7 linked regions of the Homo sapiens genome follow. The protein of the gene in region 2 interacts with the protein of the main gene of each other region in a pairwise test. Each region holds a gene or a part of one and is shown on either strand. Other genes may lie near its edges. The genes, in order: CTAG1B, TEPSIN, PSMA6, PCDHB3, C1QTNF4, ZIC1 and FLACC1.

Evidence for each region.
Region 1: the proteins of TEPSIN (region 2) and CTAG1B interact in binary tests that used the Homo sapiens proteins (3 or more experiments, as listed by UniProt).
Region 3: the proteins of TEPSIN (region 2) and PSMA6 interact in binary tests that used the Homo sapiens proteins (3 or more experiments, as listed by UniProt).
Region 4: the proteins of TEPSIN (region 2) and PCDHB3 interact in binary tests that used the Homo sapiens proteins (3 or more experiments, as listed by UniProt).
Region 5: the proteins of TEPSIN (region 2) and C1QTNF4 interact in binary tests that used the Homo sapiens proteins (3 or more experiments, as listed by UniProt).
Region 6: the proteins of TEPSIN (region 2) and ZIC1 interact in binary tests that used the Homo sapiens proteins (3 or more experiments, as listed by UniProt).
Region 7: the proteins of TEPSIN (region 2) and FLACC1 interact in binary tests that used the Homo sapiens proteins (3 or more experiments, as listed by UniProt).

The regions. Positions count from the first base shown.
Region 1 is NC_000023.11:154,616,220-154,620,528, forward strand, and holds CTAG1B (cancer/testis antigen 1), read right to left. Parts: upstream 3,064-4,309; 5' UTR 3,000-3,063; coding exon 2,731-2,999; intron 2,055-2,730; coding exon 1,920-2,054; intron 1,681-1,919; coding exon 1,542-1,680; 3' UTR 1,390-1,541; downstream 1-1,389.
Region 2 is NC_000017.11:81,232,425-81,236,813, reverse strand, and holds part of TEPSIN (AP-4 complex accessory subunit tepsin), read left to right. Parts: intron 1-12; coding exon 13-106; intron 107-1,530; exon of another isoform or gene 1,531-2,765; coding exon 2,766-2,833; exon of another isoform or gene 2,834-2,875; intron 2,876-3,097; coding exon 3,098-3,176; intron 3,177-3,212; exon of another isoform or gene 3,213-3,310; coding exon 3,311-3,382; intron 3,383-4,295; coding exon 4,296-4,389. UniProt on the Homo sapiens protein: Associates with the adapter-like complex 4 (AP-4) and may therefore play a role in vesicular trafficking of proteins at the trans-Golgi network.
Region 3 is NC_000014.9:35,309,224-35,313,612, reverse strand, and holds part of PSMA6 (proteasome subunit alpha type-6), read right to left. Parts: intron 2,874-4,389; coding exon 2,718-2,873; intron 733-2,717; coding exon 554-732; intron 1-553. UniProt on the Homo sapiens protein: Component of the 20S core proteasome complex involved in the proteolytic degradation of most intracellular proteins. This complex plays numerous essential roles within the cell by associating with different regulatory particles.
Region 4 is NC_000005.10:141,098,900-141,103,729, reverse strand, and holds the start of PCDHB3 (protocadherin beta-3 precursor), read right to left. Parts: upstream 3,258-4,830; 5' UTR 3,081-3,257; coding exon 690-3,080; 3' UTR 1-689. UniProt on the Homo sapiens protein: Potential calcium-dependent cell-adhesion protein. May be involved in the establishment and maintenance of specific neuronal connections in the brain.
Region 5 is NC_000011.10:47,591,358-47,596,409, forward strand, and holds the start of C1QTNF4 (complement C1q tumor necrosis factor-related protein 4 precursor), read right to left. Parts: upstream 3,055-5,052; 5' UTR 2,791-3,054; intron 1-2,790. UniProt on the Homo sapiens protein: May be involved in the regulation of the inflammatory network. Its role as pro- or anti-inflammatory seems to be context dependent. Seems to have some role in regulating food intake and energy balance when administered in the brain.
Region 6 is NC_000003.12:147,414,398-147,417,714, reverse strand, and holds the end of ZIC1 (zinc finger protein ZIC 1), read right to left. Parts: 3' UTR 996-3,317; downstream 1-995. UniProt on the Homo sapiens protein: Acts as a transcriptional activator. Involved in neurogenesis. Plays important roles in the early stage of organogenesis of the CNS, as well as during dorsal spinal cord development and maturation of the cerebellum.
Region 7 is NC_000002.12:201,340,111-201,344,499, reverse strand, and holds part of FLACC1 (flagellum-associated coiled-coil domain-containing protein 1), read left to right. Parts: intron 1-236; coding exon 237-330; intron 331-2,068; coding exon 2,069-2,130; intron 2,131-4,389.

The sequences.
Region 1 (4,309 bases), on a different chromosome or scaffold from region 2:
CCCTTAAAGGCAGGAGCCTGTACGTCTTCCCCTAAATCAAGCATGGCAGAAAGTCCGTTTCTTTATAGCAGACCACGCTCTTGTTAATTGGATCTCCAAGCGATGAGGGAATGAACCTGTGTTTTGGTTATATTACATGTTCACAAAGATTTTAGATTATTTGAATTACTATTATCATTATTTTAGAGGCAGGGTCTCACTCTGTCACCCAGGCTGGAGCTCAGGGGTGCATTCATAGCTCACTGCAGCATCCAGCTCCTGGACTCAACACATCCTTCCACCTCACACCTCAGCCTCCTGAGTAACTGGGACTACAGGTGCCTGCCACCACACCCACCTAATTTAAAGAAAAATTTTTTTTTTGACAGAGTCTTTTTCTGTCAACCTGGCTGGAGTGCAGTGGCATGATCTCGGCTCCCTGCACCCTCCACCTCCTGGGTTCAAGTGATTCTCCTACCTCAACCTCCCAAGTAGCTGGGATCACAGGCACACACCACCACACCCTGCTAATTTTTTCTTTTCTTTTCTTTCTTTTTTTTTTTTTTTTTTGAGACAGAGTCTTGTTCTGTTGCCCAGGCTGGGGTGCAGTGGCACCATCTCGGCTCACTGCAACCTCCACCTTCCAGGTTCACGTGATTCTCCTGCCTCAGCCTCCCAAGTAGCTGGGATCACAGGCGCACACCACCACGCCTGGCTAATGTTTTTTTGTTGTTGTTTTTTTTGTGTGTGTATTTTTAGTAGAGATGGAGTTTCACTATGTTGGCCAGGCTGGTCTCCAACTCCTGACCTCAGGTGATCCGCCCGCCTCGGCCTCCCAAAGTGCTGGGATTACAGGCATGAGCCACCGCACCCGGCCTTTTAATGATTTTTCTACAGACAGAATCTCGCTACATTGCCCAGGGTGGCCTCCAACTGCAGGTCTCAAGCCATCCTCCCGCTTCAAGCCTCCCACAGCGCTGGAAATACAGGTGTGGGCCACCATGCCCAACCCATATCACATGCTTAACAGTGATATGATAATGCTGGTTCTATGCATCTATTCAAGTACGTTTTCAAAGAATTTTTCCCAAGTAAAAAAGCTCATATGTTCAATGAAAACAATTTGGGAAAAAATTTAATGCTGACCTGGAAAAACATTATATATGCTACTGTCATATATTTAACATATAAATGCAAGTATATTGAGGAAAATATTCTAAAATGTCCACAGTAGTTAATGCTGAATGGCGGGACCCAGTGGCTTTTCATTTTCCCCCATTTCCCAAATTGCCTCCCGTTACCTTGTGCTACTTCAATCTGTGAATCCCAGAGCCTCCCCTGCAACCCGAGGACAAGGGCATGCAAGTCCGAAGGTGCCTTCGCTCGCCGAAAAGAGACTCAGACACGGAATCGTAGCTCAGTTTTATTTTCTACAGAAACAAACATGTAAGCCGTCCTCCTCCAGCGACAAACAATCAGGCCCCCACAATGAACTGGCCACTCGTGCTGGGACCATTCCCTAGGGGAGGAGGCATGACCTAGGAAGGGGCGCCAGGCTGGGCTTAGCGCCTCTGCCCTGAGGGAGGCTGAGCCAAAAACACGGGCAGAAAGCACTGCGTGATCCACATCAACAGGGAAAGCTGCTGGAGACAGGAGCTGATGGAGAGCTGCAGTTGGCGGTGGTCTGCAGCAGTCAGTCGGCTAAATGTGAGGGGCAGAGAACATCACGTTAAAGGCGACACCTCTGCACCCATCTCCCTGGGCTCCCTCGGGTGGCGGCGGGCCTGGTGTACCAGGTCTCTGTTCTGAGACCCTGTGCTGGGGTGTTCCCAGGTTTCTAGCAGCCTGACCGTGGGGTGTAGGCGGATCCCAGCCCCCACCCTGCCACGCTGTGACCGCCACCCACCCAGGCCCCATCCCTGTCCTGGTCCTGAACTGACATAGTCAGTATGTTGCCGGACACAGTGAACTCCTTCAGAAGCACCCCTGGCACGGGAAGCGGTGGGGCATCCTGGGCCAGGCTCCTGCGGGCCAGCTCTGCTTCCATGGGTGTCGCGAAAGGCATGGCGAGGTAGCTGGTGGGGGCCCAGTTAAGGCATCCTCTCCTAGGACTTGGCCTGTGGCTCCGGCCTGCTGCTTACCCCAGGCCAGCTTCCCCCTCCCCCACTCCCCCACCCCTCCCCCCTACCCCGGATTGCCCAGCCCATCCCCCCCAGGCTGTCTCCCCAGGCACTGGCCCAGTAGCACACCCCACCCAGCTGTCTTGGTTCCCCACTTTCCTTTGCTGCACCCCAAGCTGACTCCTCCATGCCCTTACAAGACCCCTCCCCACCCTGCCCCCTGTGGCATCACCCGGCCCCCTCCTCATCACTCGACCCTCCATCCCAACCACCTCCCGCCACCCGCTCCCATCTTGCCCCCTTCCCCCCACCTCCTGATCCCCTCCTACACCTGGGTCCCCCTATCTCCTGGCCCCTGCTCCCCTCCCCGCATGACCCGGTGCCCCTCACCCAATCACCCAGCCCCTCTCCCCCACCCCCACCCCCTCTACCTCCCAGCCCTTACCTCCTCCCCTCCTCGCAGCTGGCCTCTCATATCCCCACCTCCCAACCCCCACCCCCACCCCCACCCAACCACTTACTCGCATCTCCCCCGCCTCCTCCCCCACCTGGCCCTGCCCTCCCCATCTCCCGGCCCCCACCTCGCCACCAGAACTGTCAGAACAGAACAGAACAGAACAGAACAGAATACAACTCAAGCAGGCGGCTCTCCGGCCCCCTGGCCCCGCATCTGCAGCATCCATTCAGCCCTGAAGCCGCGCCGCCATGCGGACCCCGCGGGGCGCCTCCTCCCGGCCCCGAGGCCCTTGCTGCCCCTGCGCCCCGGGGACCTCTGCCGCCCGTGGCACCCGCCTCTCCTGGGCCGCCAGCATTGCCCCCTGGGCCATCAGGAATGCCAGGGCCTCCTGGGCCATCAGCATCGCCCGTCGAACCCCCTGTGCCCCGGCCTTCGGCCTGCATGGCTCCGGAGCCTCTGCCCGGCTCTCAGAGAGAAGGTCAGGGCCCACGAGGATGCGGAGGCAGAGAGGCTGCAGGAAGTTCCGCCCCCTGGCGTGAGATGGGCAGCCCGGGATCCTCAGGGCGCCTGCGCACAGGGGCCCTACTTCCGGCCCTGGGAGACCCCGAGTGAGCCCCGGAGCACGTGACCGGTTCTCACCAACCCCGCCCCTCCCCAAGAGAGCCCGGGCCGGAAGGTGGCCGCAATGCCAGCTTGGACCCCTCACCCCTGAGCAGCCGGCTGTCCGCCGGACCCCTGTCCCGGGAGCCCTGCAGGGAGTCAGGCACTGCGGGGCCCAGCCTGTCCCATCCCCCGGGTCTCCCTCACATCGAGGAGCAAGACGGGCCTGGGAACACGGGGCCGGGACTGTGCGGCCATCGTCCCGGACCCTGCCTGCCCTGTCCGTCCTTGGGGGAGCGCCCAGGACAGACCCCGGGGGGCAGGCCTCTAACTGGGCTCAGCAGCCTCCGTCCCTGTCCTGGTCGCCCAGCTGGTGGGGTAGCTGGAACTGCATGTCTGGTGGGCGTGGCCTCGCGCCAGCCAAGGTCTCCCAGGCGCCAGGTCCAGCCAAGGTGGACGGGAGGGCCCAGCGGGACCCGGGGCCGGATCTCACTCCTGGGTTCAACGGGTTCTGTCCCTGTCCTAGTCGCCCCGCCTGGTGGGGGAGCTGGAGCTGCGTGTGGGGTGGGTTGCGGGTGGCCTCCCACCAGCCAGGGGCTCCCGGGCTCTAGGCCTGGCCCAGGTGGACAGGCGGGACCTGCTGGACCTGAGGCTGGGTCGGGCCTGGCTCCTGGGTTCGGCAGTATCAGTCCCTGCCCTGGTCGCTCTTGCCTGGTAGGGAGCTGGGAGGTGACCCTGTGTCTGCTCAGTGGTGATCTATTTGTGTGTCTGGAAGGGGGTCAAATCCACGGGACAGGTACCTCTAGAGGCATGCAGGGGTGAGGGCGGCACGGCCCCGGGAGCTGAATGTCTGTGCCAGGCACACCTGTAGCAACAGGAGGTGACCAGACAGGGCCTAGCCCTGAGGAAGGGGGAGGTACTGAAATCCAAACCACTCTCCCCCACCTTCCAAATCCAGGAATCAGCAGCCTCTGCACCTGGGAAAAGCATATTGGCACTCATGTGGAAACTAAAAACGTTGATCTTTTGGAGGTAGAGCAGAATGATGGTTACCAGACGCTGGGAAAGGTGGGGAGGGTGGGGAGGTTAATGGGGACAAACATATAGTTGCATAGAAGGATTAAGTTCTAGTGTTTGATAGCACCGTAGAGGG
Region 2 (4,389 bases):
CCCACTCCCCAGGTGCTGAAGATCCTGCTCTATCTGTGCAGCCACGGCTCCTCCTTCTTCCTGCTCATCCTCAAACGCAACTCTGCCTTCATCCAGGAAGCTGCAGGTACAGGGGCCGCGCACGCGCTCAGGAAGAGCCAGGGCTTTGGAGAATGGGGGAGGGTGGCGGATCCTCCAGGTTTGAGAAGGAAGACTTCAGCCAGAGCCCTCACCTGGGCCGGGTCCCGATCAAAGCCCCGCCTTGCTGATCCTGGCCCATCTCTGGCCTCTCCACCTGCTGCCCACCCTCACCCCAGCTGGCCGGCTCGGCCTCCCCTGACGCGCCCTGCCCCCTCCCTCCGCTGGGTCCTCCGTGCCTCCTATGCGTCCCTGGGCCTTTGGCTGCGTCTGTCCCTGCGCTTGCTGCCCCGGGTGCCAGTTTGTTTCTCTGTGTGCCCCACGGGTCTTCCCCCTCCATCCCAGTGCCCACACATAGCAGACTCAGTGCCTGTTCACACATCCTTCCCAGGCTGTGGGTTCCCCTTCTGGGGCTGCTCCTCGGAGCCCAAGACAGAGTGAGGCCATGGGAGGGCGGAGCTGGGAGGCAGGAGAGGCGGGGCCCCGGCCAGTCGGTCTGTCCAGGCAGAAGATGGGTCTGGGGGAGCTGTCCCCGCAGGCTTGGGGGCAGTCCCATGTGCCTCTGCCTAATGAGGACTTGTGGGGGCTTGGCCTGAGATCTTCCATGGGGTGGAGGGAGGCCTGGCTCCAGGTGGTCACTGGGCGCACCATGTCTGGACCCCACCCCAGCCCCTGAGTGGGGAATTCTGGGGAGGGAGACTGAGTCTGTCTCGTGCCACTGCTTGCTTGTGGAGACCTCAGGGTGTACCATCCACTGGGCTCACCCCAAAACCGGTGTCGAAACCAGTGTTGTCCCACTTTATGGCAAGTGGGCATGCAGCTCTAGGTGTTCCGCAGGGGCCAGTGCCCTGGGCCGCCATAGACAGTTGTGACACATGACTTAGGCAGTAGATGCCCCTGAGGGGACGGCAGTGCGGGGGTGCTCTCGCCATCCTCACAGAGCTCCTCACAGCTTTGGGGCCAAGGCAGCACCAGCCATTTATCCTCACCATTCAGCGGGCCAGAGGGCCCCGGGCTCCAGGCCACTCCCGTGGCTGTGGTTGGTGCATGTACGTCGTGGCCTCAGTGGTCTCGGGGACACGCCCTGGGGTGGGGGCTGCAGCAGGTAGGGGGATGGGGCACAGCAGGACCTGAGGATGGGAAAGGCTCTTCTTCAGACCCTGGGTTCTTGTCGGCACCAGAGTCTCTCCTGTGCAGAGGCAGCTATGGATGATGGCTGTTGCCTGCCGTGCCTGGACACTGGCCCTGGGTGACACACAGGCTGTGGGAGGTGTCAGGACAGGCCCTGTGAGGAAAGTGGGTGCCAGATGCCACACGTGAGAGACGGGGCGCCCTGCTCCAGGTGGTGGGTGTGCAGTGAGGATGGCCTGCCCCACGCGCGCAGAGCGTCAGAAAGAGGAAAGAAAACGCAGCTGGCAGTTACAGACAGATTTTCTTTAGTTAAAACCTGAGAGGCACCCCCAGCCGATTGCGGTCAGGAGCACTTTATCTTACAGACTGAATGTTGGTTTTAGGATGAGAGGGCTTATCAGAAGCTCGGAATGTTTATGTGTGTGGAGAAGTTTATGGCAGGGTTGGAAGGAGGGAAGGTTATCTTGGGGCAGGCATCTTTTCAGCCTGGAGGTGGGTTTTCTCGAAGCTGGCATCTTCCCGGCTGGAGAAGGGTTATCTTGGGGCTAGCATGTCTCTGGTTGGGGAGGAGTTTGGAATGTTTCTGGTTGGAGATGTTATTTGTGGTTCATGGTCGTGCTGACCTTAGCCATTAGGCTGATGCCCTATGGATTTAGGCAGTTTTTGGTTAAGGTGAACTTTAGAATGAGGGGCTTGTCCAAGATGGTGATGCTCCTGCTCTGTCACAGAGCAGGGGCAGCGTGGGGTGGCAGGTGGGTGCCCTGGGCTCCTGCAGGGAAGATGGCAGCCTCAGGGTGTCAGTTCATCCAGCCATTGACTCAGCTTGTGGCCGCCAGCCCTGGGCCCAGGGACAGCCAGGAGCATCGTCTCCGAATCACGGGACCAGCCTGCCAGGGTGGAGGTAGACGGCCGAGGGGCGTGAGTGGATTCGCCTGTGACAGAGGCTCTCGAGGGGTTCTCAGAGGCACAGCTCTCAGCCTGAGCCCTGAAAGGATGCCGCGGCCCCAGGTGTAGGCTTGGGGGGCCCTGGGGCCGGAAGATTTAAGGAAAGAAGCCCCAGTTCATCATGACAGGAACTCTCAGAGCAGGGGAGCTCGAGGCGGCTGAGACTGGGGTTGGGTGGGGCTAGGTGGAGCTTTCAGGCTGTGATAAGAACGCTGGTTTCTCCCTCCAGGCCCCGGAAGCCTCTGAGGGGTCCCTGGTGCACCTGGGGCAGGGAGAGTGGGCTTCGGGGAGGCCACACCCGCTCAGGCACCAGGGGTTGCCGACCCTGGGGGAGACGAGGTGGTTGCTGTGGAGAGAGTCTCGCCTCTGTGGGGCATGGGTGAGGGGGAGCTGAGGGTCTGCTCAGGTGTGGCCTCTGCAGGGTCCTGGAGGAGGGCATCCCATTGGCTGTGACAGAAGGGCCTTGGTGGCAGGAACTTGCCACCCTGGAGTGGGCCCAGGGCACCGTGCTCCACAGGGAGCAGCGGTGCCAGGCTCAGCCCTGCCCCCGACTTGCCTTTTCTGTTCTGCAGCTTTTGCAGGGCCCCCAGATCCTCTGCACGGGAACAGCTTGTACCAGAAGGTTCGCGCGGCCGCGCAGGTGAGCCCAGGAGCAGTGTCGCTCTGCGGGGTGCCCCTCCTCCTGTAGAGGGGTGGGATTGGGGCCAGGATGTCAGCTGGGGGGTTTGCAGTTCTCCCATCCGGGACCCCTGCCTCTGCTCCTTGCTGGTGGACACAGAGCCTGTGTCCAGCTGAGTGGCTCAGGAGAAGTGTCCGGGGGACAGAACGGAGCTGATATGGGTGGCAGGGTGAGTACAGCAGGCCCTGGTGTGAGGACACTGAGGGCCTTCGCCTCCCCCTGTAGGACTTGGGGAGCACCCTGTTCTCGGACACCGTGTTGCCGCTGGCTCCCTCCCAGCCTCTGGGGACCCCGCCTGCCACAGGTAGGTGACTGAGGGGACCGTGTCCAGCTCTGGCACCTGGTTTCTGCCTCCTTGAGTGTCCTGGGTGTCTGTGCCATCCGTGGGCAGGGCCGAGGGTGGGGGCCGGCTTGCTGCTAACGGAGGACCCTCTGCAGGCATGGGCTCCCAGGCCAGGCCGCACAGCACCCTCCAGGGTTTCGGCTACAGCAAGGAACACGGCCGCACGGGTGAGTGGGGAGGGCCTGCATGGGCTCTGGCATCTCAGGGTGTGGGGATGAGGAGGTGGTGGGGGCCGGACCATGCCGCCCCATCTAGTAGCTGCTGTCCCCCGTCCCCTCCCCTACATGGCCTCAACCCTTCCTGGGGCTGTCCCCACTGTCTCTCTCTGGCTGCTGACGTGGGGGTGGGGCAGGTGTGGCCAGGGCTGCTTTATGGACAGATGAGAGAAACCAGGCCGAGCAAGAAGTCAGGGCTGGGCCCCGTGGCAGGGGTGAGTCCCACTCTGAGAGGGGCCGAGGGCTGTGCCCCTGGCTGTGGTGCAGGTGACTCAGGCAGTCCCGTGTGGAGCTGTTATGAGGTGGGGCAGTACCAGTGGACAACTGCTCACCAGCGCCAGGAGAGCCACAGGTGGCACCACTGCCTGCGGCTGGGACCCAGCCCCCAGCCCAGCTGTGCCCTGCTGCCGGGCCCTGGGCGGTGTGTAGCTGCTCACCGTTAGGCTGTGTCACGCCGTCCTGCGCACAGCCTGGGGCTCCTGCCGACACTTTGGTGTCGGGGCAGCTTCTACAGGGAACTCACACAGGAAAGGCCGGCCCCTCCCCGAGCCCTGGACACACCCTCCCTGAGCCAAGGCCAAGCCCAAGCCCCTTAGGACACCTTCACCCCCAGAGGACAGAGGGACGGAGGCATAACTCTGCAGTGAGCTTTGGTGTCCAGGCCCACTGGGAGTGGGAATGCCAAAGCGGAGTCCACTGGGAGCTTCCAGAGGGCCTGGGGCCCACCAGGAGGCCTCCCTACCTGCAGCATGTACCCCGACCTCTCCAAGCTTGAGCAGGGAGCCGATGCGGGCACCCTGCTCCCAGAGAACGCGGGTGGGGGCCGCACTGGGCGGCCGTCCCATCTCCCTCTCCTCGGGTACAGGCTCGGCAGGCGAAGCCTTCCTCTCCACCATCCAGAAGGCCGCAGAGGTGGTGGCCAGCGCCATGCGCCCCGGGCCCGAGAGTCCCAGTACCCG
Region 3 (4,389 bases), on a different chromosome or scaffold from region 2:
GACAGGGCCCAGTACTTCCTGAACATGAACTAGCTTTTTATCTCCTTTAAGCATACTTCCAAACCAAACGTAAAAGCATTAGATGGTAATTTTTTTTTGGTCACTTATCAGAAGCATGTTGTTAGCATCTTCAGAATGGCTTTAATTCCAGACTTACACCCAAAATCTACTAAAATTTTTGTTTTTAATTTCTTGGCAGTAAATAGGACTGGCCTCGAACACCTAGACTCAAGCAGTCCTCCAGCTTCAGCCTCTCAAGTAGCTGGGACTACAGGTGTGTGCCACCATGCCCAGCTGGTTCCTATTTTTATTTATATTTTCCTATTATATGCGTTTTGTTGAAAGCCACCTCAAATACATTACGAAATAAGGAATTAAGTGAATAAAAGCAACTCAAATTTTCCTATGTCAGCTGTATGATATCAATTTCATTATTAAGTTGACAACTTGAATCCTGGGATGTAATTCAGGAATAGCTTTGTATAGAAATTATACAAAGATCCTCACTGTTCTATATAGCATAAAAAAAGTCAGCTCCTTTTGGTTGACTTACTTCCACTGTCTGTTCAAATGTCCAATCAAATTTCTTCTTCACTTTTTTTTCAAGGAAGCTGGTTGACTCAGTTTGTTTAACTCCCGCTGCAGTGGCTTTAAACCCACAGTAGTAACCTGCAGGATCACACTTATATACCTGAGGGCCTTGCTCTTCATCTATACCAATTAAAATCATACCTAAAAAGAGAAAAGACCCTAATTAAATGTTTTAGCTTTATACAATGACATCTCCTCTTTCTTGGTGGTGTCACATAGCTGCTGCTAATCATGACTTTGGCCATCAATTTTAGGATATGTATTTTCCTTTAAGAAAACTGATAAAATACAGGTTATCACCACAGGTAAATTAGGTAACAGGTAAATTCCCATTTCACAAAAGGATTTATCACAGATTAAAAAAAATAGTTTGAATAATTACAAATACAATTTAAAAATAGTGTTTCCAATCCTTGCTGTTATCCAAGCATGTTTATTTGAACCCTAATCCTTCAAGATGTTGCCTGGTCAAATAAACTTCAAAAACACTTTTTTTTTTTTTTTTTTTTTTTTTTGAGACAGACTCTCGCTCTGTCTCCCAGGCTGGAGTGCAGTGGCACGATCTCGGCTCACTGCAAGCTCCTCCTCCCGGGTTCACGCCATTCTCCTGCCTCAGCCTCCCGAGTAGCTGGGACTACAGGTGCCCACCACCACGCCCAGCTAATTTTTTGTGTTTTTAGTAGAGACCGGGTTTCGCCGTGTTAGCCAGGACTGGTCTTGATCTCCTGACCTTGTGATCCACCTGCCTCGTCCTCCCAAAGTGCTGGGATTACAGGCGTGAGCCACTGCATCTGGCCAACCTTTTTTTTTTTTTTTTTTTTTAGGAGACGAGGACTCGCTGTTGCCCAGGGTGGTCTTGAACTCCTGGGTTCAAGTGATCCTCCTGCCTCGGCCTCCCAAAGTGCTGGGATTATAAGTGTGCACCACTGTGCCTGGCCCAAAAACACTTTCATATACCTTTTCTGGAAACAGATAATAAATAATAGCATATTAAATGCTGTGAAATATTCTGTTGTAGATTGACCTATTTAACTTTAACTCAGTAGTTCTTCTGTTTGTTTGACCAAGAAATACTTTTTTTTTAAAATAGAAATACCTATTAAGGTTCCAGGGAACAGTGTATGGGACACACTTTGGGAATGCTGGCACAAACTGAAATACACTTACAGGCTACCTGCTCACCTTTACACTGCCCATCTTCATTACTGTTGGTATATACTCCTCTAGTAAGTCACACAAACCAAGCTCTAAATTCTATACATGTAACTTTGTTACTACAATTCTAATGTTACCATATTATAGGAATACAATTAAAATAAACACCATCATTAAATTTCTTTCTACTCAGTAGAACAGGTAACAAAGTACTTAATGGTTTGACTGCTTTCTTATATTTGATATATACAAAATATAAGGGCAACACAAAAAAGTACCCACTTACTGCTTGGGGAAACAACAAATACTTCTTTCCTTCAAGGTCTTGCAAGATGAATATGATTTAAGTAATTTTTAAGTGAGAAGTCAAGAGGGTCAGATGCTAAACAGAAATCATTACACTGACTGCTTTAATGCTCATAAATGAATGACACAATGTCAGAAACAAACATGCACTGAATTTTTCAGGCTAATTTATTACATCACATCTAAAAATCAGTAAATCTCATCCCTCTCCCAATACAATTTTACTTGTTTTCAAAAATAGAAATTTATTCTAAAAATGTGAATTACACACCTGTGTGTGACCCTAATTCTTTAGGGTGGTCAAAACAAACAGCTACATTATTAAGATGCCTGATGCAGGTATTTCTATGGAATTAGTAATCTCGAATTGCAGTAGAACCTCATTACAACATCCTAATAATGAGGACTTGCATCTTTCAAATCACATACACCAAATGGAAATACTTTGATAAAAAGTCTAACAGCATCTAAAGCTTAAAGATAATGCCCGACATACTGTTGTGAAACCTATCCTTTAGTTCTGATTTATTATAAAGATTTTCCCACTCTATGTATTTTCCAAACCACATGTTCAGAACTCAAGTGTTATTTAAATAATTCTGTATACATGTTCTGTAAAAAGTTTCAATTCATCAATTATTTGGGAGACCTCTTAGCATACTTACAACAACCAAGAGGCCTCATTTCAGCATTCTGTGTGTAGACCTGAGAAATATCGGCAATTCTTTTACACAGCATGTCCACAGGAATCTCATAGCCATACTTGTATTTCCAGTTAGCTGCCTCATAGCGTGCCCTCTGTACCTGGGATCTGCTGTCAGCTTATAGCATAAAAAACAAAGATTTACCTGGTTAGAAGGAAAGAACAAACCTGAAAGCCAGGCAATTTAGCCAGGCAATTTTCCCACCATATAGACATACATGAGTTAAAGAGAAAGGGTCCGCTACGGCTTTTTCTCCCCCAATGAATACTAAATAACTCATCAACAAGTATATGAAAAAAATTTAAAAACATGAAGCTCTCTACACAGTACTCCCCTTTTATACTGAGCCTTTCATCAGCAGTCAAAATAGTTTCTGCAAGTATCCAGTAACTCCCAAAAGAAAAAGCATTAAGGAGGCAGGGCATGGTGGCTCAACACTTTGGGAGGCCAAGAGAGGCGGATCACTTGAGGCCAGGAGTTTGAGACCAGCCTGGCCAACATGGCTAAATCCTGTCTCTACTAAAAACATAAAATTAGCTGCACGTGGTGGTGCATGCCTGTAGTCCCAGCTACCTGGGAGGTTGAGGCACGAGAATTGCTTGAACCCAGGAGGCGGAGCAGCCTGGGCGACAAAGTGAGACTCTGTCTCCAAAAAAAAAAAAAAAGGCCTTGAGAGAGAATAATCTTTCTTAATCTTTGTTTTTAGGCTTAAATTAGTTTTTCATTTTTTTTTTAGAGATGGGGTCTTGGACTGGCACCCAGTGAGCCATCATAGCTCACTGCAGCCTTGAATTCCTTGGCTCAAGTGATCCTCCTACCTCAGCCTCCTGAGTAGCTAGGACTACAGGTATGTGCCACCATACCAGCTAATTTTTTTTTCTTCTTCAAATGGAGTCTTGCTCCGTTGCCCAGGCTGCAGTACAGTCTCATGATCTTGGCTCACTGCAACCTCTACCTCCCGGGTTCAAGCGATTCTCCTGCCTCAGCCTCCTGAGTAGTTGGGATTACAGGCACCTGCCACCATAGCTGGTTAAGTTTTTTGGTATTTTTGTTTTTATTTTTTGAGACAGTCTCACTCTGTTGCCGAGGCTGGAGTGCAGTAGTACAATCTCAGCTCACTGCAACCTCTGCCTCCCGAGTTCAAGCAATTCTCCTGCCTCACCCTCCTGAATAGCTGGGATTACAGGTGTGCGTGCGCCACCATGCCCAGCTAATTTTTGTATTTTTGGTAGAGATGGAGTTTCACCACGCTGGCCAGGCTGATCTCGAATTCCTGACCTCAAGTGATCCGCCTGCCTCGGCCTCCCAAAGTGCTGGGATTACAGGTGTGAGCCACCGTGACCAGCCCCTAGCTAATTTCTAAATTTGTTATAGAGATGGAGTCTCACCATGTTGCCCAGGCTGGTTTTGAACTCTTGGTCTTAAACAATCCTCTCACCTTGGCCTCCCAAAGTGCTGGGATTACAACTGTGAGCCACTGTGCCCAACCTAAAATAATTTTCATAATAATTCTCACTCACTTCTAACCGATGCCATTATTACCAGGTTTGAGATATACTGAGTTAGGTCCCCTTAAACTACTAACTATAGCTGAAATAAGATAAAATCATCTATGAAAGGGCCCTCAGCCCAG
Region 4 (4,830 bases), on a different chromosome or scaffold from region 2:
CCATATTTTGGCCAATATAAGCACATAAAATATTGAAATATTAATTGCAAATGTCAACACAGAAAATGAACTAAATTACTTTCATTTGAGTACTATATCCCTAAAAAGATGATATATTACTATTTATTAAAGAAAACACATTCTTGTCTATCCTTAAAACTTTGTTAACTATAGACAAAGCTGCTTTGGGCATATTATAGAACACATTATATGAATATATTCAACAAGGGAAATTATAAAATTGGTGGTTTGGAACTCTCTCTACATTGCTTTATAATGTAAAATTTGAATGGAGTTATTTTAATAAGCTATTTGAAATCACTATTAAAAGACAGTGAATTTCTTTTTGCTCCCCATTAGAAAAAAAAAAGGCGGAATTAAGACTGCGTTGGCAAGCCAGGATGAAAGGAGAATATGCAAGGATTAACTACAGAAAAAGTAGAATCAATATATAAACAAAATGTTCTATCGACTAAGGATTCTCGATTGAAATACAAAACATTCAGAGCCACACAACTACTTTCCAGTACTGTTAATGAAACCTAAGCCATCCCTGGATTTGATATTTTGCTCTATTCTTGCTACTTGCCTTGAACCAGACCAAAAAAGACCTCTCCAATGGACAAAGCAGTAAAAAAGGACTTTCCACAGATTAACTAAGACGAGGCTCAGTAGATCCTTATTAACACTTAACTGAATTCAAAGCTCTTCCTGAAACTGGGATTTGCCTCGCTAACCCTCTCTGCACCCTGAGCAACGAAGTTGGGGATAATTGGCTTCAGGAACTTGAACTCATTTGTCCCGGAGCCTCCAGTCAGACACACCTCGTACTGGTAGCTCTGGGACAGGGTCCCGGTGCCGCTCACGTCCACCATCTGCCCTGGAAAGGGGCCCTCGGGCACCGAGCAGCGACCCACCGAGGCCGCCCTGCTCCTCCTGCACAGCCGCACCGCCACGAACAGGAGCACCGAAAAGAGGAAGAGCGAAGACACCGAGGCCAATGCCACCACCAGGTAGACGGTGAGCAAGTCGGCCTGGGCCTGGGCCGGTGCCGCCTCCGGGAGAGGCAGGTAGGGCTGGGAGAAGCCGTCCACCAGGAGCACATGCAGCGTGGCGGTGGCCGAGCGCGGAGGCTCGCCATTGTCCTTGACCAGCACCACCAGCCTGTGCTTGGCCGCGTCGCGCTCGCTCAGCAGCCTGGCGGTGCGCACTTCGCCATTGTGCGCCCACACGCCGAACAGCCCGGGCTCCGTGGCCTTGAGCAGCTGGTACGACAGCCAGGCGTTCTGGCCCGAGTCGCCGTCCACCGCCACCACCTTGGTCACCAGGTAGCCCGGCTCAGCCGCCCGGGGCACCAGCTCGGTGCAGGGCGCGGAGCCGTTCTGCAGCGGGTACAGCACGAAGGGCGAGTTGTCGTTGGCGTCCAGCACCAGCACGCGCACCAGCGCCTCGCTGCTCAAAGCCGGGGAGCCACGGTCTGTGGCGCCCACGCGGAACTCGAACGCCTGCAGGGCCTCGTAGTCCAGCGACCTGAGGGCAAACAGGTGGCCGTTGTCCGCGTTGATGGAGACCAGGGAAGAGAGGGGCAGGTGCGGGTCCTGGGGCGGCAGCAGCGAGTAGGTTACCTGGGCGTTGGTGCCTGAGTCTCTGTCTGTGGCGCTGACACTGCCGATGTGCAGGGCGGGGCTGTTGTTCTCGCGGACGAACAGGGTGTAGGAGATTTGGGTGAAGGCGGGGGCGTTGTCATTGACGTCGGAGACCAGCACGGTTATGTTGTACTTGGTTTTCAGCCTGGGTGTCCCCAGGTCAGTGATAGTGATGGTAATGTTGTACTCGGATCTGGTCTCTCTGTCCAGCGCGCCTTCTGACACTAGGGTGTAAAAATTCTCTACAGATGGTTTCAGGAAGAAGGGGAGATTGTTCTCAATGGAACACATCACTCTTCCGTTGTCTCCAGAGTCTAGATCAGAAACACTGAAAACAGCCAGTACAGTCTCTCCCGAGTTCTCAGGAATAGGGCTGTTTACTGAAGACAAGGTCAGTTCCGGTGGGTTGTCGTTGACATCAACCACCTGGACTATGACTGTAGACTTTCCGGATAGGCCTCCGCCATCCTTGGCCTCGATGTCGACTTCATAACTATTAATCGCTTCAAAATTCAAATATTTGACCAGTTGCATATCACCAGTAATTGGATTTAGCTGAAAAGTTTTGCGAATTTCTTCAGAAGCATGAAAAAATGCATATGATATTGTCCCAAAACTTCCTGTATCTAAGTCAGAAGCCGAGACAGTGACAATGACAGAGTTAACGGGGGTATTCTCTAGAACTGCAACCTCATAGAGCGGCTGTGCAAATTCTGGTGCATTGTCGTTTATATCTAAGACCTGGATGTTTATCTGGGCTGTCCCAGACCGAGGGGGAGAGCCGCCGTCCAGCGCGGTGAGCGTTAAGCTGAGTTCCGGCTGCTCCTCCGGATCGAGCGCTTTATCCAGTACTAGTTCCGGGTACTTCCTTCCGTCCCTACGACTGCGAGTGAGTACGTGGAAGTGGGAATTCGGAGTGATAGTGTAGTTTTGGAGGCTGTTTCTTCCCACATCCAAGTCCTCAGCATTTCCCAAAGGAATTACTGTTCCTGGCAGAGTGCTTTCTAGGATTTTCAGATGCATTTCATTTTCAAAGAATACCGGAGAATGGTCATTTACATCTATGATACGGAGCTCGTTTGTAACGAATTGCAAAGGGTTTTGCAGTAATATCTGAAAATGTAGTATGCATGGTTCTGTGGGGCCGCATAGCTCCTCCCGGTCCAATTTCTCATTCAGGAGCAAATCACCTGTCTGATGACTGAGCTGAAAATGCTGTTTGTTCCCTTTGGACACAACTTGGGCCCCCCTCGCGGCCAGTTCCTCTACCCTTAGTCCCAGATCCTTTGCTAGGTTGGCTATTAAAAAGCCCTTCTCTTTTTCCTCAGCCACAGAATAGCGTCTTGACTCGGACCCAGCCAGAGACCCTCCCAGAAAAACAAAGAGAAGCAAGACTTGCCTTTGTCTAAGAAATCGCTCTCCTCCCGCCTCCATTGCACTTTCCGTCACGCTCTTCCAGGGAATGTCGCCAAGCTGAACCTCAGACAGAGCTGGGAAACAGTCTTTTGCCCCACAACCTTTGTAGACGGCCTAGTGAATAAGCCTTTCCAGAGGCTCAGACTTGCTGGCTCAAAAATCTGCCTGGGCTCTCAACCGCTGGTTTACCACACTGGATCCGTGCGTCACCGAGCATGCACAATGCCTGTGGTTTAATTCGCCTTCTTAGTCAACAGCGCCACCATGCGTTCGCTTGCAGTTACAAAATCTTGGAGAAGGTGTTTTTATTTTGCTTTATCGATTATTCTTATCAACCCTAGTTGACGCTACTGGAGGAGTTTCTCATGTTATATGAATTAAATAAATGCAATCTAGGGAAATAAAATGCACTTTTATCTACGAGCAGCGATTCTTCCTGGTAGAGTCCTCATTTACACGATTTAACGGAAGTGTACACATACTAGTTTACCCCTCCCCTTTTGTAATAATTACACACAAACTTCAAAAGATTTTTGCTCTAGATGATAGCATGCTTCACTATCCTATTTATGTTTTTCTTTTTTTCCTAAACTTTGTGAAATGAGCCCGAATTGCATATACCAGAAAAACACAAGGAAAAGACACCTCCTGCAAGGTGGTAAAAAAGAAAATATATCATGTCAGAGGTGGATCCAGAGGACTACAAATACCTAATTTCTTCCAGATTATCATGCTCAAGGAACACTTAAAGTGCTTTCTCTTCTTATTTCAGAGCAAATTTACAATTATTCATTTCATCTGTATTAGTTTATTTCCACAGATAATTGTTGAGTTTGTAGAAGTTAGGCAAGTGGTGGTAACAAGACAATGTCTGTATATCTTACAACAATTTTCCATCTAGTGGGTGTACAGTCTTTAAACAGATGTTTAAACAGTGTGAAAAGTGCTACATAGAAAAGGTACTGAGTGCACTGAAAGTATGCAATACGGGGACCTAACTTAATGGAGAGTGATTAAGAAAGTTTCCCCCAAGGTGCACCATTTAATCTGAAACATGAAATAGGAGAAGTGTGCCAGGCTAAGACTGTAGAATGTGTGAAGGCCCTGAGAGAGCAAAGCATAGCTATTAATAGATAATGAATGAAGTACAGTGAATACAAAACTTAATGTCTCAAGAGTAAGTGGAAAGGAAGGCTGAAAAGGTAAACCAAGGCCAAATAATGGGCGCTTGGATTTTATTATTCTAAGAACAAAAGGAAGCCATTGCAAGGTTGTTGGTACAGAAATAAAACAGTGCAAATATGTGTTCAATGTAGCCGCTTTTGTACTTCTACACAATTATCAAGAATGTTTGCTCTTAATACTAGTGATACTAAAAATAACAGCAATTTCACTTTTATGTCTTTATATTGAGTATAACTGCAAGCTATTCAAATACCTGCTATCATTTGGGTAGAAGAAAAGAAACTTTGTGACTCATCCAAAATCCTACAGGTAATGAGTTGGTTGATCAGAGACTTTTGATACCAACACAGCGCTCTACACCATTGCTAATCTCAAAACAAGACCTTCAAAGTTAATATTAAAATTTTAATAGGATAGCTCATTCAAATGTATGTAAAAATGATATAAAAATATAAAGATAGACTGAGTAACATTAAGAATTAAGATTTGTTTTAATGTATGGATCAGAAAGTAAACTGCAAGAAATGAAAACAGTTGGGTGAGTCATTTAGGGAACTATGGAAGGAAATTTAAGTAATAAAAT
Region 5 (5,052 bases), on a different chromosome or scaffold from region 2:
TGAGCCATCGCGCCTGGCCTTGAAACCCCGCCCCCCCCCCTTTTTTTTTTGAGACGGAGTCTGGCTGTGTCGCCAGGCTGGAGTGCAGTGGCTTGATCTCGGCTCACTGCAGCCTCCACCTCCCAGGTTCAAGCGATTCTCCCGCCTCAGCCTCCCAAGTAGCTGGGACTACAGGCTTGCACCCAGCACACCCAGCTAATTTTTGTATTTTTAGTAGAGACAGGGTTTCACCATGTTGGCCAGGATGGTCTTGATCTCTTGACCTTGTGATCCGCCTGCCTCGGCCTCCCAAAGTGCTGGGATTACAGGCGTGAGCCACCGCGCCCGGCCGAAACCCCTTTCTTAAGTGAAAGCTTGAACACAGACTAGCAGAAACACTCTGGTTAAAGAGGCCTACAGCCCTGTCTGCTGGGCTTGCCCCTACACCTCCCATTTGACACTCAGGGGCCCTGGTAACCCGGGGGATTCAGGGGAGTCTCTGAGTTCCCCTCAGCTCCAGTTGGCTGCATTTTCCTGTGGTTATTTTATGGTCCTTGGTCTGCCACTCACGCAGGCACTGGCTCTCTGTGTCAACGCTCTGCATGACCGTTACTGTTTAAGCCCCATCTGAGCAGGAAAGGAAATCGCTGCTCCCTGACCCCTTTCCTGGCCTCACCAGGGGCCCTTCCTGCACAGAGGAGGCGAGAACAGTTGGGCTTTGAGGTAGCTTCCTCCCCCTTGAAATCAGAGTAAAAGAGAAGGTGACTCCTTTCTCTTTGCTTGGAGGCTGGTTACTCAGAAGAAGGAGTGGCGAGCCAGGGGCTACTGGGGATGGACAGGGACAGCAACAATTCCAGCAGGGCTTTGGCAAGGCTGTGAAGTCAGCAGCTTTGTTCCTTGGGAGTGATGGATTGGAGAGGACAGATAGCCAGATCTGGGTTCAGGTCCTGGCTCTACCACTCACACTGTGAAACCTTGGGCAGGTTCCCTAACTTCTCTGGGCATGGCTTCCTCCATGTAAATGGGGAAGAGACCTCACACACAGGCTTGCTGTGGGGGTGTGCTGAGATAGGTGTGAACATGGTTTGTCAACGGCAGTGCTGAGGTGTGCAGATGCTTCTGTCGGTTGCCCTGACAAAAGTGATCTGGTCCAGTTCTTGACGTAAGGGTTTAGGGACTCAGTCACTCCTACCCCTGAGAGCTTGGTGAAGGCACTGCTTAACTCAAAGGAGTCACTCTCTGATGTAGGGATTCCATCCTGCTTCCTAGTAGGGCACGTGCTTTGGGGCTTGAATACCCAAAAGCCCTGATGTGGAAACAAAACAGGAAAGAAATGAGCTGGAGACAGCCTGGGATGTGGGCTGCTTTAGAAAATGCCCTGTATGTGTAGCTCTGTGTCTCTTAGAGACAGCAGGGACCTGCTGAGAAGGGTTGTCAGGTGTAGATGTGCAGAACGTCCCAGCTAGAATCTAGCTCACACTCCACATGTTAGAGCAGCACCTGGCGTAAAGTATGCCACCTTCTCATTCTCATACTAAAGACCCCAAGTTGCTAGCCAACTGAATGCTGTCTCCTTCCAGAGGAGGTGCTTTTTGTAATTCTCACAAAGGTGTCCTATGGATTAGTTAGGTGTCCCTTGGTTAGGACAGGGAGGAGGGAAGGGGCCATCCACAGTGGTGAAGATGGCACCTCACAAGTGTCCAGTGCATTCCCTTTTACAAAGTTCTTTTAGACACATGGTCTTGGCAAACCTACAAGACAGGTGGGCCGTCTCCCATTTTATAGATGAGAAAGCTGAGGCCCAACAAGGGAAAGCATTTTGGCCCAAGGTCACCCATGGAGCACTGAGGTTTTTTGACTCAAATTCCGTATGCCTTCCTGTCACTCTTCCCTCCTAGACACAGGTATGTCCAGCCAATTTGTTCTGTGCCTCAGTTTACCTTTTTGCAAAACTAGGAGAGGAGATCAGAGGAATGAGTCTTGGGATCCAGGGTGAGGAAGACAGAAAGCAAAACCAAACAAAAGCAAGCAAACACATTCTCTAGTGTTTTGTCTTCTGGGAACACGGAAAACAGCTCAGCTTTTCCATACCGCTGCTTTCCTAGTGGGTCCTGCCCCAGAAGCAGCTGCCCAGCAACCTCCTGACCAAGGCTGGTGCACCCCACCAGTGCCAAGGGTCTTCCTGTGCACCCAGTACCCAGCCTCCGTTTCACCCACACTGCCCAATTCCCAGATCCCTGGATCCTCGTCCTTCCCTGAACCCCCTTCCCTGAGCAGGTCAGAGGTGTGGGAGGGTGTGTCAGGTGGGTGTCATAGCTCCAGGGAAGGAAATGGCTGTTCCTGGCTCTGTCCAGGTGGGGTTCAAAATAGTCATCTTCAAAGAGAAAAACTGGGACACAGAGCTGGAGAGACCCAGAGCCCCGGAGCCAAGGCGGGAGGTGCAGCGATGTCAGGCTGAGGGGATCGCAGAGTTCCCCCTTGCCCTGCCACTCACCAGTTAACCCTTCCCTCAAGCCCTGCCAGAGCCCCCTCCCCAACCTACCTTGAAAGCCCCTCATCCTTCCAAGAAGTCCCACTTTCACAGAAGCCAATTAATCCTTATTTTTAAAAAACAAAAACCAATCCCTCTCCCCCGAGACCTTCCCTCCATCCATCCATCCCTTTGGAATGAAAGCCCTTGTGCCTGTTTCACGAAAAGGCTCCCAGGTCCTCCTTTCAAGGAAAAAGGACCCAATTTCCCCGCGCCTCCCCAGCCCTCGCTTCCAGTAAAGGGGGAACCTCGGCTCCCTGCCTCCCCTCAGCTGCCCTCACCTGGCTGGGGGCGGCGGTCGAGTCGGGTTCGGTCTGAGCCCGCGATCTGGCTCCGGGCTGCGGGCTGCGGGCTGCAGGCTGCAGGCTGCGGGTGCCGGGCTGCGCGCTGACCGCCCGCGCTGCGGCAGGGGCGGCGGGGGCTCCGGCTGCTTTTCCCGGCTCTGAGGCGGCAGCGGACAGGGTGCTGGGGCCAGGGGCCGGGCGTGGGGAGGCGTGAGGGAAAGGGAAGGTCAGCTAGAGAGGGAGCCGAGCGAGAGCGAAGAGGCGGGGGAGAGACGGGAGGGGGAGAGGAGGGGAGTAGGGGAGAGGGAGGGGCGAGCTGCGGGGCCTAGGGGCTCCGCACGGAGTCTGCGCCGAGCACTGGACCCTTCCTCATCTGTGACCTCCTTAGAGCTTCGTCCTCTGGGTCTAGAGAGCAGGCATCATTAATCTGAGCAGTTGGGGAAACTGAGGCCAGAGGCAGCAGCTAACGCGGGGTGGCCCAGAGCGCTCTACAGTCCAGCTTCCTTCCTAGTGTGGGGAGAGAGGGCTAGAGCTGGACTCAGAGGCTGGACTAGCCTTTGGGCTGCAAGGACAGTGGAAGGTGAGATTTTGGCTGGGACAGATGTCCAAGCTAAGTGGCCTTGGGGGAGAGGTCTGAAGGAAGAGAAGGATAAATGGGTCAATGTTGCCAGTAAAGGAAGAGCTGAAAATAACCTAGTTTTTCCTCCTCACCTCCAAATTGGAAAATGCCCACGGTCGGTTAGGAAAGAGGGAGAAGGGAGTCTGCAGGCATCAGAGGGGCAGCCTGCGTTCCCCGGGGTGAGGGGCAGTAAGGAGGAGAGTCCTTGGGGCAGAATGGAATTTTCTGCTGGGAAGGTTGCTCCTGCAAGAAGGGACAGGATTGAGAGGGCAATAGGTGGGGAAGAAAGGCCTCTGGAGAGGGAAACTGATGCCCTGCCTCGCTGGGGCCAGGCTAGCAAGAGTCCAGCAGGGCACCCGGGCTGGGAACAGCGGTCTTCCCATGGTAATACTCACCAGAGGCACTAGTGCTGGCCTCTACTCTGGGCTTCGAGCCCGTGGGATGGGGGCTCAGACTCCCTTTCTCTAGGCTGCTGTTCTCTCCCCTGACGGCTGTAGAGGTGACGACACTGCCTGGCACTCAGTAGATGCTGACTGAGTGGATGACTTTTGAAGAGCTCTACTTTCAGCAGCCAAGAGCTGGTGCCCTCTGCCTGGCCCTGGTTGACTCCAGAGCCATGGGCTCTAATTCTGCCTCTGCTGCAGGTCTGCTCTGTGGTCCCTGAGAGGCCTGGACCCCTGCAGAACCCCCGTCCTCTGGAGCTTTCCTTTTGGAGCTCTCAAAGTTTACCCCACCCCAGTTAATCTATTTGTCTCTAGGAAGATGTTGGTAGAGGTGATTGGCTCTGCTTCAAGGGTGTTAGGTGAATGATGGAATGAATTAACGAATATGTGCCAGAATAGAAAGGAATGAATGGAGGTGTTTTGGGCTGGATAATGAGGGTATTTGGTGACAGAGGGTGAAGCACCTGTCTAGCCCTTGTCAGATCACAACTGTCTCTTTCACCAACTTGAAAAGCTTGGGCCACAGGACTGTGGGGAGGACAAGAAGCAGGGTAAGGGTGGGATGAGCCACACAGGGATGTCGAAGGAGAGCTGGGGGATGCCAAAAGCCAACCTATGGCAATCTATGGCCCTTCTTAGGGCCATGGGCCCCTTCTGGATGAGAAGAGTGGAGCTGCTCTCCTGAGGGTGATTCCAATGGTGGGAGGGGAGGGGAGGGGAGAAGGTATATTATAGGATAATATAATCTCAGTTGAGGTTTGGTTCAGGCTGGGATTTGACACTCCCTGGATCCACAAGAGTTCTCACCAGAGAAGTGAGGGTTGAGGTAGAGATGGGTGGCTGGGGCAGATGACATCAGGATTTGCATCAGGGGACTGGGATAGGGAGGAAGCCACTGGGAAAGGGATATAGAGAAAGATGATGCCATGAGCTGGTGGGTGTAAGGCAGATGGGTGGGCTCCAGAATGGGAGTTAAGAAGAGGTGGCAGCAGGATCCAGAGAAAAGCCCTAGGCTGGTTATAGTCCCTGCTCCCTCCTCTCTTGTTTTGCAGCCACAATTTTATTTATTTTTGAGAGAGGGTCTTGCTGTGTCACCTGGGCTGGAGTGCAATGGTATGATCTTGGCTCACTGCAGCTTTGACCTTGCGGGCTCAAGTGATTCTCCCACCTCAGCCTCCCAGGTAGCTGGGACTACAG
Region 6 (3,317 bases), on a different chromosome or scaffold from region 2:
ATCTTCTCTTTAAGGTCTAGGGCCTTCTCCAACTCACTTCCTGAAAAGCAGTATGCTCAGGTAACAACTCCAACAGCACCGACTCACAAGGGGTCCTAGACACTGATTTAATGTTGGCCTCAAAAAGAAAACTTCTGGAAGCTTTTGGGGCTAGGTGAGGTACTTGAGGGTATAATTCTCTGGCCAGCCCTTTAAAAGTTCTGAGAAAACTTCACAATAAAAGCATCTAAATGCCAGGCCTATCAGCAAAGAAGGTTAGTGCTACTTTCATTGTCAGGAAAAAAAAAAAATAAGAAAGAAAGAAAAAAAAAAGATAAGCAGATGGGGCAATTGAAAGGTTACATCTTTCTTTTGGAGGTGGTTTGCTTTTTAAAGGTTAACTTGAATGCTTGACTTTAAAAAATCAAAATCATCAGCTGCAAACGCTTAAAGCAGTTGGGGGTAGCTTTTGAAGAAGAAAACAAAGGATCTGAAATGTTTGAAATTACTTAGCCCCCATATAAATGGTGCTTGTATATTTATATGCTTGCTCTACAAATGCACACACACACATACCACAACTCATTTCTCTTCATTTCTCAAATATGATTGCTTGTACTCAGGCATTTTCTGTTGACACAACATAACTTTTTAATAACTTGTTAGCTGTTCTAATCATTTGATAGTATTCAGAATACAATGCAATTGCAAAATGAACCAGGACAGCATTCTACCTAAGTCAGAATCTAAAGCTACACACAGGAAACAGCTATTTGCAGCATCTTCAGCTCCTGCTAAAGAGAGTCTAACAATATATTTTGCTGTTCACATTTATGTATTTCAAAACCTAATAGCCCATGAAAAAAAGTATGAAGAATACATCTCAAGAAGCAGATATTAAAGGTACCAGCAAAATAATAGACTACATTTAACTTCGAAGGATTATTTTAGGCCACCTACATCATTAATGACTTTTTCTTTGTGATAGGTGTTGGAAAAGAGAATGCACAGGAGGGTTGGCTTAAATGTTGGCTTTTATTACGTTTACTTGCTGTGAGTAAGATTATTCACAAATGCAAACACACTACTCTTCAAATGTTTTCTTAAAAATTATTTGGCCTTCACAGTCTAAACAGATATTTGAAATATGGAGTCATTTTGAAGTAAACATTTACCCCTAAAATTTATCTTTAAAATATCCTACTTAAATCATATGTCATAGTGTGATATTTAATTGTTACACTGTGGTATTAAAGCAAAAGGGGCATCAGGTACACAACAAAAATTAGACAGTTATAATTCCCAATTTGAGGTAAACTACATCTAGGAATAGGAATGTTCGAAGAAAAGATGAACTCATCATTTACTATCTTCTTAAATGCACCAGCAAAATTACAAAAGTACCACTATTATCATGTTTATCATTATCACACTCATATCAGGTTATCAGACAAGCTGATCTCAATGAAAGTGGGAAGGATTATTAATTGTGGTGTTATCTTTTCTAGAGAGAAGAGATGTCTTTATTCCTCTTTCTATTTTTAACTAATGTCTGGACCTAATGTCTGGAGTCACTTCAAATGCAAATCTGTTAATCAGTTTCAAACTTCCAAACCAATTGGGGCTAGCTTTTGCTTCGCAAATTTTTGGAGCTAGCAGCAATTCCTGCTTAGGTATTCAACTTCCATAAATCTCACTAAACCTTGCAAGGTGGCGCTCTTTTCATGAAAAAAGCCAATATTATTGTTATAATCAGAATAACATTTTTTAAAAAGTTAAACACCACCCTCCCCAGTGTTTGATGTGGTACAGTAAGTGCAGCAAAGTCCTTCCTCAGCAAATAAGACTTTGTTGAAACAGTGACAAATATAAATAGCAAGAGATGAAAAGACAAGTCAACAAAGGATTCTTAAAGAAATTGAACATTTTTATCTTGTAATTGGCCAATGGTATAAACTGAAAAATTAATTTCACTTTAAAATAGATGTATCTTAAGGGGTTGTTATACTTTGTGGGGTTTTTCCTCTTGTTTTCTTTCTCAGAGTCAAATATGGCCTGTGGCTTCCTGAACACATAGAGTGCATTAAAGAATCAGGTCCATGGCCACCCTTGCCCAGTGAGGTCAGTTTCTGCCACCTGCTCTGCACCTCCACACACTAGCAACTACAGCCAAGGGCCTGATTTGTGATCTCCGGCTACGTTGTCTGCCTAATGGGGCGATCATGCAAGCTACAACCAGAGACAAAGAAGCCTGCGTTCCTACCAGCGCAGCTAACTTCATGGAAGCAGCATAGCTTGCAAATCTATCAAACTAAACTGCAAGAAAGACAATCTGATTTAGAGAAAAGGCATTCTGCTACAGTCATTAAGCACAAGTAATTTAGATTTTTTATATTGTCTCCTCATTTACAAATTTACTGTATCAATGCCAACCAATGGAACGAATTTCTTAAGTAAATGAGAAATAAATAAAAGAGATAGAAAGATAATCAAATTACTTAAAATAATCCTCTTCCCTAGATGTATTTTTGAGAGAACTAATAACAGTGGCAAAATCATAGGAATAATAACATATCATAGGAAGTAATTAATTTAAATTAGCATCATGTTTGAAGAATATAAGTGAAACGCTTTATGGACATTTACTTTTGTACAAAGAAGGAAGGCCTGGAAAAGCATGCATCGACATCCTGAAAATTAGTTATGGTCATAAATGGTTTAATTGAAGACAGCAATTTAAAATATGATATTGTAAATCTGCAACTCAGTTTCAGCCCGGGGAATTTAATCTAGGGGGCAGCGGAACCCTCGGCTGCAAGTTCATTTGCAATGTTGCAGAGCGAGCCCCTGAGCTTCTGACAATTCGTCTACATTAATATTGATGTCGCCTGTGCAATCTATTCCTGTTATTTTTATGGTTGTTATTCTACATCTGCAAAGGTCATTTAAATTATACTGCGGCCGAAAATTTGTTTCATAAATTTTGATATAAATACTAATTACACTCTCTCGGAGAGCCAGCAGGGTAGCATTCATTTATCACGTTTATACGACCTGCAGTGACAGAAAGGGAAGGCAAGGGAGACTGGAGAGCTTTTCTGGAGACCCTTTAAGACTGGCAGAAGAGGCAGCAGGTTGCTGGTGGGTGAAGAAGAAATTCCTACCACAATCACGGAGATTTAAGAATCTTTAATAAGGTACGAAAGGTTACCAAACAGTTCTGGAAACTAAAGTGTACATACGAGTTCTTCTAGCCATAAATATTGAAGAGCTGTAACATGGATAAACCGGCCCTTTACATGCGGATAAATATGGAAACTAGGAATTATATACATTAT
Region 7 (4,389 bases), on a different chromosome or scaffold from region 2:
TCTAGTGAGCTTACCCACAAGAGCCAGATCTGAGCCTCAACTGCCCTATAGCCAAATGCCTTCTGTAAGACCACCCCTATCCCTCCACCCCCACCCCATAATGATAGAGCAGGTGCAGAACATGGCCAGCTCTCACCAGGCCAGCTCTCACCATGCCAGAGTCAGTCATGCTCAGGGGCCTGAATGGCATGGAATGGTAAGCTTTGTGGATGATAGAAGAATTACTTCTCCTACAGGACCAACATCATTTCTGACCTAGAAGAGCAAATCTCAGAGCTGACAGCAATAATTGAACAAATGAACAGAGACCACCAGTCTGCCCAGAAATTGGTGAGTGACCTTACATTAGCTAACATCTTCATGGACAAAATAAAATTAATATTTTTGAATCACCTATGTGCCAGGCAAAATGCCAAGCACTTTACTCATATGAGCCATGTTGTCCAGGTGACAGGACCCTAAAGATTGGACTGTGTCACTCAGTAGTATTTCTCTGACATCTTTATCTGTAATTCCAAGAACTCAAGTTCTTCCACAAAGCTTAACTCATTTATTTCCAGGAGCTCTCCAAGTACCTCTGTGTGTGTGCAGTGACACTGTCCTCCTCACACTAGGGTGCACTTGTTGTTTTCTGTCTGGCCTTTGTGGTGCAATTAAGTTTCAGAGCTTGTGAGGCTCTCACTAACGACACCAGCGCACTTAATGTGCAGGGCTTACTCTCTGACTGTTAAAGCTGCCCACACATCAGAATCTGCAGATGTCATTTGACACTCTTTGTGATTCCTGAGGATTTCAGTGACACCTTTTTAGCTTTTACCATCTGTTTCATCTGGTGACTTCTTCCTCACCTCAAACAGGTGTGCCTGTTGGCCTGGCCTGGAGTGACAGCCAGTGCTGTGTTCAGAAATATCCTCCCCAGGGTTGTTGAACCCCACCCCATCTGTGAAGTTTTACTTCCCAGAAGGCAGCCTCTCACCCTCTGATATGCCCCAGATGTGTCTGAATCCTACAGTGACCCAGCTTATGACTCAGGCTGGGTCCTATCCTGAGACCACCCTCCTCCGCCTGCCAACTATTGATTCATTACCTTATTTATCTGAAAACACTGCCAGGTTTATGGTCTCCTTCTATAGAAAGGAAAATGAGACTCAGGGAAGTTAAACAATTTGCATACAATCTCTCAACTGAACAGTGGTAGATCATTGGACAAAATGAACATTTTAAGTCATAGGCACAGATCCTGCTGAAGACATATTTAGAGACTATTTCCATGAAGGGATCCTAGACTGTGTTACTGAAAATACTGCCACTTGTGAAGATGCTATTTGTTGTGTGGCCCTGTGGAAGGGAGTAGTGTTGGCTGACGCTGGGCTGTTCTCTGTCTGTCAGAGTGGCTCTGCTGACCACTTGTTGTGTGACACAGTCCCTGGCTTCTCCCCAGTAGTCAGAGAGGTACAAGGACAAGCCCTAAACCCTTGTCCTAGCTGACAGTGGTCACCGACTGATTTGAAGTATTGATTTATCCTGAGACACTGGCCAGAGGATCTGACATGTTAGAATGAAGTATCACCTGAAAGTGAGCAAATCCTGCCTGCTAGAATGGAACTATACTGTCAACAAGGATTAACACTAGATTTTAAGTTCCTCGAAGGCAAGATCTGAGTCTTAGTCCTCCTTGGCTCTTCCAAGCCAAGCCTTTTGTTCAATAAATGATTGCTCAATTGGATTACATATCCAAAAATCTGAAGGCCATGATGTAACAGAAATGACGATCTAGCACAGGAGACCAGACCTACCCAAAAAAAATAGTCAGTGAAAGAGATGCACCAACATTATGAACTGAATAAGTACAAAACAACATAGAGCAAGGCACAAATTGTTCTGTTCCCTTATTAATAATGTGCTCTCTGGCACTGCAGAGCACAGTGGAAGAGGGGTGGGAAGGGGGCTGTGCCCCATGAATTGGAAGGCGGCTGTGCCCCATAAATTGGAAGGCTTTTCAGAAGGTGCAGATCAGAATGGGACAGGGTCCTCAGTCCTGTGTTGTAGATGCTGATTTTGTTTCCAGCTCTCCAGTGAAATGGATCTCCGCTGTGCTGAGATGAAACAGAACTTTGAAAACAAGAACAGGTACACTTTCTGGCATGGACCCTTGTGTGTGTTGATGGCTCTAAGGGTCCCGCATCCTTTGCAGGATTTTAGTTCACTGGGACTTCAAATAGTTCTAAATGGAGTTGGGGGATGAAGGGTGGGGGAGATGAACAAGACACGTGTCTTTGAAGAGCAGAATGGCTTGATTCAAAGCCACTAAAATAAACCACAAAGAAAGTTATTACTGCTTTTACATTTTATCATCCAATCCTTTCATTTCAATTATAATCTCCCTTTTTGTTGGTTACTGAGAAGAGTCATTTTTGTTCTCTATGAGATTTCTGTGATAAATAACTGTTGTTCTCAGCCAAGGCTCCTCCTCCACCATCTCCTCGTTCTTCTCTTCCTCCTCCTCTTTTTCTTTGTCTCACCTCTACTCTCCCTGGCTGCTAGGTCAGGGCCTCAGCAAAATAGGAAGAAAGTATAAGAGAATCAGGAGCAAAGTCAAATCAAGAGAAAATTGAAAGGAGTCCAAATACAGAAAGACAGAGAATAGAACATGGTTACCATGGTCCGGTAGGAGGAAGAAAATGGGGAGATATTGATCAAATCATACAATGTTGCAAATATGTAGGGTGAACAAGTTTATATTGTTTACAAAGATATAATGTAAAAAATGAGAGCTATAGTTAATAATAATGTATGATATTAAGAACTGTTGCTAAATGAGTTTATAGCTGTTCTCACCACAGAGGGAAAATGGTTAACTAAGTGAAATGATGGATATGTTAATTTGTTCCACTCTAGTAAACTTTTTACTATATGTATATAGTAATCTCCACTATTATAACCATTTGTGTATATATATATATACATACATATAAACTCTACCTATATATATATGCTTGTGTAGTGTGAGTGTATATATATAGTAAAAATTATGTGTAATATATATAGTATAATGGTTACTATAGTAGAGATGCATATATATATGATTTATATATATATATATATATGAATCTTATGACATCATGTTGTATACCTCAAATATACACAATAAAATTTATTTTTAAAGGAGTTTTCTTATGTGTATGGGTGAAGATAATCCTACATCCCCTTTCAGGCTACTTGCTGCACACCAGAGCAGCCTTAGAAATCCTGGTGGAGAGATAGCACTCTTAGTTGAGTCATAGCCATTTACACATTTATTTATCTATAGACTTTATCTGTTAGAGCAGTTTTAGGTTTACAGCAAAAATGAGGAGAAAGTACAGAGAGTTCCTGTGCACCTGCTCCTAATCAAATTCAATCAAATTAAACTCAAAGATGAGTACACCAAGACACATAATAATCAAACTATCAAAAATCAAAGACAAAGCAAAAATTCTGAGAGCATCAGAAGGTAAGAAACACGTCACATACAAAGGAGTGCCAATACAATTGTAATTTCTTAACAGAAACCCTGCAGGCCAGGAGTCAGTGTGATGATGTATTAAAAGTGCTGAAGGAAAAAACTGCCTACCAAGAATACCTTAGCAAAGCTGTCTTCCCCAGTTGAGGGAGAAATAGAAACTTTCCCAAACAAAAATTAAGGGAGTTCATTACCACTATGCCTGCCTTACAGAAATTGCAAAAGGAAGTTTTAAAAACGGAAACAGAAAGCTGCTAATAACATGAAACATATGAATGCACAACACTCAATGGTATAAGCAAAATAGAGCCATACTCAGAATACTTTAGGACTGTGATGATGGGATGTAAGACAATTTTATCCCAATATGAGAGTAAAAACACAAAACTATTAATAACAACTATAGCTAAAATAAATTTTCAATGATAAATCATATTATAAAATGATATCAATTCTGACATCAAAAACAAAATGTTAGGGAGGGAGTAAAACTGTTGAGTTATTGCTTGCAACTAAACTTGTTGTCAGCTTGAAATAGCTTATTACAAGAACAAGATATTCTAACTAAGTGTCATGGTAACCACAAAGATAAAAATCTTTAGCAGTAGCACAACACAAAAATAGAAATGATTCAAAGCATACACTACAAAAAACATCAAACCACAAAAGAAGAGACCAAGAGAGGAAGAAAGAATCTACAAAACAACAAAACAAAAATTAACAAAATGGCAGTAGTAAGTTCTTACCTATTAATAATTACCTTGAATGTAAATGGATTAAATTCTCTGATTAAAAAAAATAGAATGCGTGAATGGATTTTTTAAAAACAAGAACCAACTATACGCTGCCTACAAGAGACTCATGTCACCTGTAAGGCACATGAGCAC